2 separate regions of the Homo sapiens genome follow, and region 1 is linked to region 2. Evidence: fine-mapped expression QTL. A gene starts in region 2. The other region holds a variant in brackets. All regions are shown on one strand. Distances are from middle to middle.

Region 1 (5,391 bases), 43 kb after region 2:
ATGTCATCTCTGACCTCCAAGGTTTAATGGAGAAGGCAGGCCCCCAAAGCAATCAGTGCAAAGACACTTACAAGAAGGGTGCTGTGGCTACCTAGCTATCAGCTGTGACAGTTGTTCTTGGATTTTCATTTTCATATACACCTCTTTTACCTGAAAGATGTCCCTTGCCCCTTTTTAACTTTGCCTTTTAGGAGTAAGGCAGTGAGCTATTCTCACACCACTGTGAAGTCATCAGTCCATCTTTCCCTGACTAATGGCTATAAAGCAGCAAGAGTTTCCTAATTGGCATTTCAAAGAACACTAGGGATCAATTACACATAAAATGTTTATTTATAAAACTGTCATAAACTACAGGTTCAATTTGTTTGACCTTCTGGTAATTAGCACAGACTTACAATAGAGAAAGTTAGGTTACACCAAATACTTTTATTCTTGTTATTTCTACAGGAAAGAATCAAAGCACACAAACAAAACAAAAAAAGTAATAGCAGCATATTCTTCCCGGTGGGAGCAAGAGAAGAAAAGAGTACTCTACCTATCCCCTTTGCCTTCATCTTCTTTCTAAAGGCAAATATGCATTCTCAATCAAGCACATTTGCATTTGGAAATAATTTCCTTGTTGTTTAAAAGGCCTCACTTTTACTCGTCTTGCTCAAAGAACACAGGTGTATCAAAACACTTTAGGTTATTCCCAAATTGTTTTTCCCAGATTGTTTTCTTCAGAACACTAGACCTGAGGGAATTCAGTGGTAAAGGGGTACAAAACTGTTATTAGGCAAGTTTTCCCTCTCTTAGAAATTCACAAGACACTTTACCATATTAGAGTCTTATCCCTTGGTTTAACCAACTATGTTCTGACATTATGTGTTTCCTTGTGGTATTAATTATTTAGTTTTATTGCTTTCAGAAGCTTAGTGTTACTACTATTGACAATATCTACTTTACTAAGGGAGAAATTATAGAGAGGCCAAAACACCTCAAAATTTAGAATGGGAAGAGGAAATGAGGAAAGTGTGTGTGTGTGTGTGTGTGTGTGTGTGTATGTGTATGTGTATGTGGGTGTGTCTTGGGGAAAAACTGAGACACTGTGAGAAAATATTATAATTGAGGTTTTCTTAAATTAGCATTTAGGACCACTAAATAAATAAATTTCACTGTTCACAGAAATTTTAAGAACACATGATATAATTAAAAACAACTTAAACTAAATTATTCCTTTGGCAGATAAGTTCATGTGGTTACAAATTTTCTGGACTCATGAAATGTATAATATGTAGTATTATTTTAAACAGGTCAACATCACTGTAGAAAGATACTAAACCTTAGAAACCTGTGAAGTGGGAAACACTAATATCCCAATTTTACAGTTAAACAGGCACAGAGAGGCTAAGAGTCTTGCCAAAGGCCACAGAGGAAGGAAGAGACTAAATCTGGAACAAACTTTCTATTCTCCATTTCCAGAAGAAACCACTAAACCATGCTTCCTCTTGTCATGGAAGCTTAAAATATTTGGTATGGTCATCTTGCCTTTTTTTTTCTTTCCAGTGACTGTATAAAGGCTTTCGAGATGGTAGTGGTCAAGCTGTCCCTTTCTTTTGCAGCCTTCTCTATGCTTGTCTCCTTGGTGGTGCAGCAGCAGCTTATATTTTCTTTGCTTGGCTTAGGAAGCTCCCTTTGAGGGTTTCTGAATCCCTGGCCTTTTGGTGATGTTTGATGCAACAATCCTCTTTACCTGCAACCCACATCACTGACCTTGGAGCTCAATGAACTTTTCATTTACATGCACAGTCAAATTAAATTTGCCTGGCCTTTGAAAACTTACATCTGTTGAGTGTATAATTTGTATTGCCATTTGTTCCACAGATGTGTAACAAGACAAATACCTGTCCAGGCTTATAAGGGATTCAGAAATGCTTACGTTAATCATGCTGGTGGAAAGAGGTTAAGGGCGATACAATAAATCAGTCTCCAAATGGTTTCACTTGGAATGGCCTGGGAGAACAGGGTTATTTTTATCCTAGGATGCTTTTAATTTGAATCAAAAATACTTTACCACATGTTCTGCCACAAGTTCAAAAGGATTGGTAACAAACATTTAATCTTTTTCTTTTCGTATTGGCGCTAAGCCCTCATCAAAAAGCGTATGCAGTCAGGCAGCTTATCTCCACTGAGCTGCTTCCCTTAATGTGTTCCTAATTATAATCGTATATATGGCTCACTGTGGCTGATTGAACAATATGGCAGTAATTTCTTTACAGGCCTCCCTGCTCTTTGAACTGTGAGTACAGAGGGCTAGAACAGAACCAGATCAATGGGATTTGAGTGCTGGCAAATCAAGCCAGATGCGATCTTTAGAGAATGAGTTTCCAGCTGTTTCCCAGAAAGGGACTTCAACAGACAGCTGGGGACCTTATCATTATCATCATGATCATCATCATCATTCCCAGTAAATACACTCACAACTCTTTACAAAACGTGCAACTATTCTCATCTCTTCCTAAATCATTACCCACCATAAAGTCTCCCAAATGCTTTGAAACTGTGACTATGTAAAACAGATAAGCCTGTGACTGATGATGTGGGAATGGAAACATAATAGTATTATATTGACACTATATATTTGTCAGTGCTGCAAGATGTGCAGCTGAAAGCAATGTCCAAAATTTATTTTTAAGATACCAAATACTCACAACATTTCCATGTGTTTGTAAGAGGGAGATAACATAATCCTCATTTTCTTGGTCAAAATGGCATGTTATTGCTTTGTGCGTACATCTTTGTGTCCTCCACATCACTATCACCGTGCCTTGTTCGAGGCAGTATCCAATAAATGTTTCTAGGAAGAATAAGTGCTTGCTTTGTATAGAGCCTTGTGCTGTGGGGGAAGACAGCAAGCTTAATACATCCAAAGGAAGTTGCTGTGGCCCTATAAAAGGCTCCCAATTAAAGAGACCCTAATATATGAATTTAAAATGATAATTACTTTGAACAATTTAAGGATCATTAAAATGAAAGAAAATGTCCAATAGCAGAGGGACTCACAAGCTTTCCCAAATGCAACTGACCGAGTTAGCTGGTCTATGTGAAATAATTTATGCCACCTTCAAAAGCCTACCTC[G/A]TAAAAATTCTTCCTCTTTAGCCTGCTCTGGGGTTCCTAAGTCCTGCTCTTGGCCTCCCTTTTTCAGGACTGTCTGTGGATCCAGGGAGGAATTTCAGAAGAGCCAGGATTAGTCAATCAAATTAAACTCAATATCACCCAAATAAAGTTGGTCAGGTAAAATAAAGAAGTTGACACGGGAGGTGAAGGTCAGGAGAATGAGAATATTGAGTGATCCTGAGATATGGGAAATGACGAGCAAGTCTAGGGATCTGTTTGGTTTTTGTTTATTTGTTTGTTTTGAGCAGTGCTCATAGAAGAGGAAATCTGAAAGTAGGAGCAGAGTAGGGTGGACATGGAAGAGACACAGTCTACATGACTTTGTTCATACTTTGCTTAAAAGATTTTCTCTAATTTATTTCAACTTTTATATTTCTTAGTAAATTCCTTGAAGATAGGGACCACCAACGATCTTTTGCTCATTACTTATTCTTAGCACTTGAAAAAAAGCAAATACGAAATATTTATTTTTTAACCTTTGTATCATTACTGTATCATAGTAGATGCTCAATAAATATTGGAGTAATAAGTAACTATTTACAATTTTAATTTTAACTATCCTCAACTGAAAAACTCTTCTGGACATTTTAAACTCTGGTTCTCAAACAAAACAAATTAAAAACCTTTTAGAGCTAAAAGTGTATTATAAAATAAAAATGTCTTTCAAAATAGACCTAGAGTGTGCAGCTGATGAATAGCGAATATTTAGTTATATGTACTCAGCTAAACTAAAAGTTCTAGGAACTGTATCATTTTCTATGGGAACAGAGGTAAATAATTTATTTTAATCTGGTATGTATATGTATATAAAACTACATCAGTATTACCTGCATGTGATTAAAATCACACAACATGTCTTGAAACTATTTTTCCTCAGGTAACACAGATAGTAAACATGAATTATTTGGATCTGTGCTCTCCAAATATATTTGATTACTCTCTTTTATCAGTTAAAAATTACAAGAAAAACTTTTGAGCATGCACCCTCAATATATGTATATTTATTCATGAATTGTATATATACTACTACTATTTGTATTAATATTCAATTTCTTCTTTGCTTTAGATCAAACTACGTTTAAATAAGAATTAAAATGCCATTTGTCCATCACCTAATGGCTCAATTTGCTCCTGCCTTGGGTGTGCACACCCTGCTCTGGAACAGACCAGAGCTCTAAAGAAGTGACTGGAAGTTGTGAATGTCATTGTTATGAAGCTTCAAATTTGCTCTCCTCTTTAGGACACAGACATGGCATTAGAGAAGGGCAGAAAACTGCACTTGGCTGTGCATAGAGAACACTAGAGACCTCTTGTGCAAGAGAGGGGACTAGGTTGCGTAGTGTAATGAGAGAAGCATGGGTTTTGAGACCGCTACAATGTCTGTGTCTTCTTGGCCAACATTTCAGTAAGAGTAGTAAGCATATCTCCACAATAGGGTTAAGAGAACCAGTGTCTTCTGAAAAACACATGAAATCATCGTAACCCTGCTAAGTCTGTGCTTTGCAAAAATTAAAACTAAAACTAATTTTCACTATGACTCTGTTATTCTTCCTTGTTCCTAGGCCACAGGTGGGTGAGAAAATTTCGGTTAAGAGTTGGATAAATCAGAGTAAGTTGTTACTTCTGAGGATCAAGGGCAAGTAATTGGATCAGGGATGGGTAAACAGAGGGTTTCAATTCTGCATATTATATTTCAGTGAGTAGGTACAGAGATGATTGTTTTATATCCTTTCCTTCTTATTGAATCTCCTTTTTTTTAAGTGAATAATGAAAAATAGTAGAGATTATACTGGAAATTTAGAAAAGTCCTAGGATTGGGTTTACTACAATAATTTAAATAATAAGGTTAATATGGGATTGTAGATGCATGCATTACACTAAAGAGACTTGTAATGAGGCCCAACTCAGTGGAGTAAGTTGTTAGAGAATTTGGACTTCTTCCTTTTAAGGCTGACTTTGGAAGGGTGAACACTGTGGCATTAAAAAAAAAAGTTTAACTTCCTTTCTGGAGTGCATACCAGTTCTTATAGCTTGTATAAGCCCTCTATTTTATGCCATTGGGTCATCACAAGTTCTGTAAAATTCTCCATTATCATTTTCATGGAAAACAAATCCATTGTAATTCAATTGAACAATTACACATTGATCGTCTAAAATGTGCCAAACATAATACAGAACATGCATTTTATAGGAAAATTGGACTGCTCTAAGATATGTAATAAATCATCTTCAAT
Region 2 (5,391 bases):
GCCTTGCCCTCCACAAAAACAAAAACAACCCCTCAATTTATAATTTATTGCCTGCTTCAAAATCTAGTCTTTGCTTTAACTTTGACCACTATGACTTTCTACTGTTTTTAAAAGAAAATCTTTTCACAAATTAGTTTTTTGAAATGTAAATTGTTTTGTGGACAAAAGTTAGTCCTGCAAATCTTCAGCTTTACAAATTCCTTATTAGGAAGTGCTTAGTAAGCTATTTTCTGGCTTTTCTCCTTTCTCCAACAGTTCCAGCAGAGGATGATGTCATTTTTCCCTTTTCCTGTTCCACCTCCCACCCTTTTATCCCACTAAGTTTCTTGTTAGGCTTTAATTGAACACAGCAACACCTGTGTTTCTTTACTGGACTTCAAACTACTATTTCCAATCCATTTCTTCAGCTGCTTACAGGGTTGTTTTCATTAACAACAGATAATTAGCAACTTCACACAGATTGAGGAAAACAATCTAGAAGCCTATAGAAGCTTCTGTGGCCTGTTGCTCATATTAAATTAAGTGTAGATGCTAATGATCAAGACTTGACATTGTTTATTAGATATTGTAGCACAGGGTTATAAAAAAAAAAAGCAGGAAGAAACCAAGTTGGGAAATTGGATTTCTCTTGTTGACTCTGGCATTAACTAGCTGGATAACTCAGACAACTGGCCTAACCTACTCTAGTTTTACATTTCTTAACTCCATCAATCACGTGTTGAAATGGTTAATACCTTTAGTCCTTTGTAATTTTATTATTTTGTAAGAATTATATTGAATTCATATAATCATTTCCTATTTGCAATATGGCGCATAAACTTCTAGAAACTGTAAAACAATCATTATATCTTTTTTTCTTTTCTCATTCCTGTTCCCTTTATCATCTCCACACACCAGCATCCTCCCTTTCTTACTCACATGTTGTCTCACCATATGATACAAAGGAAACCAGTCAACGCTGTCTGAACAATATTATGCCATCTGGTAGGATTTCCATCCCACTCACTTCTCTATTGCTATAATTCTCCTCATATATACTTGGGGGAATTCTCCCTAGACAGCATCTTCAAAAGCTGCATATTCAGATTTACCTCTAAAGGTTTACCTGGGCTTTTCACCTTCATTATTCATTAAGACCACTAGAAGATGTGAAGACTTACGCAAAAGAACCAAAAGAGACGAGAGGATACTTTCTTAGAGATGTTCGGTTTTTCAGCTTGGGCAAGGGGAGATTCAGTTTTAAATATTGATTGTGTCTCTTAAAAGCTGTATGACCTGGCACCAGGTCATTCTAAAACACAGGTCCTCGTTCTAAAACACAGGTCCGCATTCTAAAACACAGGGACATAAATAGTACTCACCTAGCTTGGCTGTTTAAATTAGTTAATACATGGATAATGTTTATAGCAGTGTCTGGCAAAAAACAAAATGTCACCTAGTGTTAGCTTAATTACTGGGGAAGGAAAGATTCTCAGAGATCCATAGATACTTTTTCTGATAATTTTCAACTTATTTCCAATGTTGCTAGATCTTTTCCTACTTTATAATATTTTTTATCTTTGTTGATCATTGTTTGTTTTCCTCACTTCTTTATTTTACCTCCAGGTTATACATTTTATATTCTACCTAAATCAATCTTAATTCAAGGAGAATCATTTTCCCATTCTTTTATTATCATAGGCTTCTGATAAGAGAAGGAAAGTAATTAGCTCATCTTACTTCAAGGAAATATATTGCCCACTTAAAGGCAATTAGTAGTTCTGTGGTCCAGGAAAACAGGATATTGATTTTTTTTTGTTTGATCCAGTGGAGTAGTTGACATGTTTATGTTTTATTCTGCATTGCAGAAACTTGGAAGTGGGGACCCAGTTTTATAAGTAAGGCCTTGTTTGTGTATAATGGAACATTATTCACCTAGTAGGAACTCATTTAGGACATGTTTGTTAATGGTTTTTCTTGTCTTAAAATAAAGGATTCTGAAACACGTTCCAAGTAAGATTGATGATTTTTAAAAGCAGCAGCAAGAGGAAAGGTGGAGGATGAGAAGCTGTTTCTAACCCCCTTCTCTTCTGAATCCTCTCTCTTGGCTTTATTACTGCTTCTACTCTCAGTTGACGGTGTTAGTAATTTACAGATGGGCCTACTGATTTTTTAAAAAGAGAATTCAAGAAGGCCTCGACCTCTTTGCAACACCTATATTTAAAAAAAAATAACTATCCCATATTTTGGAAGAATAACATGTTAGCTCTTTAACGCAGTCTAAGATAGCATGTTGGGACAGCCTTGAACTTCATTCTCTATGCCTCAATTTCCTCATCTGTAAAATACTAATAATAGGACTATCTTATTTATGAAGAATTAACTGTGTTTGTCAGCCAATGATAATAATGCTTGTCATAAAGTAAGGGCTGACAAAATGTAGCTGTGCCGATTATTCTCTTCTATATGTTATTCTGCAGCTATGGTTTATGGGTGCAAGAGGTAGTTACTTATCCCCTCCCTGGAATCTTTCTGTGGAATGTCTATTGTGACCCCATTATTCATTTCTGTTTGGATGGTTGGCCTCTTGGTTACAAGCATGTACATTATGGCTCTCTCCTTGCCTGGAACTGGATATGAGAAATGCTTGAATTAAGATCTGTGAATTATCTTATTTTCTTGGTAAAGTGGGATTGATTTTATTCCAAATAATATTTGTTTGTTTTCTAAGAGAGGAAACTTCTGGCCTCAGTTTCCTTAGATAGGTTTGAATCTTGCTTGGTGTTTTTAATCACTGAAGAGAGATTGAGTTTATTTCTCTGGAACAGATTTTGGTTTATATTCTGAAGTTTTAATTTCATTTGGAAGCTGTAGGCTGAATGATTATCACTTTATAGTAAGTGTATTGGCAGGGGAAGCTGGCTGCTACCGTAACCCCCTACCCTCAGTGGCTTATCACGCTGACTTTTGTTTTTTGCTTTTAGCACAGTTGGGTGAAAATGAGGATGGCAGTTCTGCCACTATCCAGAGCCTCTGACACCCTCTCAGTCCACAGAGTCCTGCAATGGACTTTTTGCATGTGATTAGCAGATGCAGGAAGAAGACAGTATGCCAGGTGCAGGGCCAGCTTTGTAGGCCGCACTGGACAGAGCATGTACCTCTTCTGCCCATGGTCCGTGGTACAGAACTCATCACAGGGCAGCACCTAACTGCAAGCAAGGCTGGGAAATGGAGGCCAGTAACGTGCTCAGAAAGACAAAGGAAATGGCTGGTGAACAACTAGTTACTGCCAAAGCAAGATAGTTAGTTAAACCAATTTTTATATTATGGAACATTTCTGTGATATAATACATGCAGACCTGGAAGTTACAAGAATAGTAACATGAGTACTCAGTTTGAGAAATAATATATTACCAATGCAGTTGATGTCTTCTATTACATATGCCTCTTCGCCTCTGCTTGCATCTCCTTCTGTGTTGCTCAGGAGCAAACACTATTTTATCAGTTTTTTGGTTATCATCTTATGACAGATATATTTATGCCCATAGGTTAACATTTTTTGTTATTTTCAGTCTTTATACAAATGGTGTCTATTGAATGTATTCTTTGGTGAGTTTTTCACTCATCTTTATAATTCTGAAATTCATTCATGTTGACTTGTGTAGTTGTAACTCATCCATTTTTACTGTTGTACGGTATTCCATTTGTTGGAATAATCACAATAGAATCATTCAGTTTCCTGGGCATTTGGGTTACTTTCAGGATTTTTTTCTTTTTGCAAGCAATGCTGCTATGAATATTTCTGTACATATCTCTTCATATATATTTGTAAATTACTCTAAGGTATGAATCTTGCTGCTATTACCAGAATACCACTCTATTAAAATTGTATGCAGTAGTATGTCTTTTTTAAGGACAAGTTAATAATTTAGATTTCCATTTACTCTTCCTAGGTTGGTGTGAGTGTGTTGCTATTGAGTGCTGGCTTCACGGAGTGTGAACGAAGTCAGACTAGAATATTTTAACTCCATAGATCCATTATATTTCTTTGATTTTTGAAGAAAATTTTGAAGATAATTTTAAAAGTCATAGTTGTACTTCTATTAGCTATCTCACTTTGTGCAATGTGGCTAAGTTATTTTGGGGGGATTCTATGTTATGTTCGTGGCATATCACTTTTCTGATGTGTAGAGTTCTGTGTGACAGAGCTAGATTTATGTCAGAGATAAGAGAGTCTCCTGAATTATTTTTTCTCCCCACTGACTAGTTAAGTGAATTTCCAAATTCCTAACCTTATTCTTGTGATTTAAGGCTTTATTTCCTTTTAAAAACCAAATTGTCCTTCTGACAATACATAAAGAATAAGCAAACTAATCATTTAAGAAAAGCAGAAATCATCTTAATTCCAGAATCAGAAAAAATTGTGTCCAAGACTCACAAATGGAGATAATTTGATGGGAAAAATAATGTTTTTAGTGGCATCATCATAGCAAATGACAGGGTGACTTTCACAGGCCTGTTTGTGATAGTGCCGCCTACCCAGGCAGATGGCACCACCCGATGTGTTGTTGAGTCACAGCTGTCTCTCAGTGGGATAAATCTATGAGTTTCACATTAGAGTAACCTTCCTATAGCCCAGAAGAAGGGCAGTGTTTTTCATAATAAGAAAAAGAAACAGAGAAAAATTAGACAGTCTCCTAAATAAGAGTCATGGAGCAAAAACACCTATTATTGTAGCACAGCCTGATGAAGTTTTGGCACATGGCTCATTCCTCCAACACTGATCTTGTCATTCAACATAAATTTCTGGTTTCTTGCTCACATGACTCAGAGTTGCATATACCTAGAATTTGCCTTCACGGGGAAATCCTTTCAAGGCTTACAGGCCTAACGTATCTGGGGCAGGCCATGGGGAAGACTGACATTTTAAACCACATGTTTATTAAATTATATGTTTGAAAAAAACTCCTGCAATTTTAAACCGCATGATAGTGCAGGGATTTATTTTTCATTTATAAAATTGTGTTATTGTAATAATTTTTCTTTGAAAGGAGATGAGACAGAGTGAATAGGGAATTTCTCAACTCCTTTTTGCAATTTGCTCCCTAGCTGTGTTACTCAGTCCTTTGGCTCTTCAGAATCTATTTGTAGCTAGATATCCTAGTGGCCTAAAAGACAAAGTGCTAGCACCCAGCAGTCAACAGCTAAGGCTTTAGGGCCCAAATACCTGGGTTTGAATCCTAACTGTGTCAACTTCAGCATGGTCCCAAGTCTATCTGTGCCCTCAGTTTTTTTAATTTGTAAAATAGAGATGTTCATACTAATATTTAATTTTTAGTGTTTCAATAAGTATAGCTCAACAAACCAATAAACCCTGTTACATTATTCTCCTCCTCAACAAATATCAGCAAG

Direction of the effects. Alleles are on the strand shown, and positions count from the first base shown. SD is a standard deviation of normalised expression in the study named.
With allele A in place of G in region 1, the expression in testis of the gene that starts at base 2,551 in region 2 is lower (moderate effect, 0.54 SD a copy in GTEx).

Evidence for each region. PIP is the estimated chance that this variant, and not a neighbour inherited with it, causes the effect. A credible set is the group of variants that fine-mapping cannot tell apart.
Region 1: its variant is the best candidate, but not a certain one, in a credible set for the expression of LINC00382 in testis (GTEx, PIP 0.53).

What each region holds. Positions count from the first base shown.
Region 1 is chr13:79,913,349-79,918,739 of GRCh38, forward strand. LINC00382 (long intergenic non-protein coding RNA 382) reads left to right here. Exons shown (of 6, transcript NR_120413.1): 4 at 1,368-1,512; 5 at 3,186-3,274; 6 at 4,224-4,688. Among named protein-coding and RNA genes, the nearest start is that of LINC00382, 43 kb to the left of the region's middle. The variant G/A (reference allele first, on the strand shown) is at 3,119.
Region 2 is chr13:79,870,036-79,875,426 of GRCh38, forward strand. LINC00382 (long intergenic non-protein coding RNA 382) reads left to right here and starts at 2,551. Exons shown (of 6, transcript NR_120413.1): 1 at 2,551-2,661.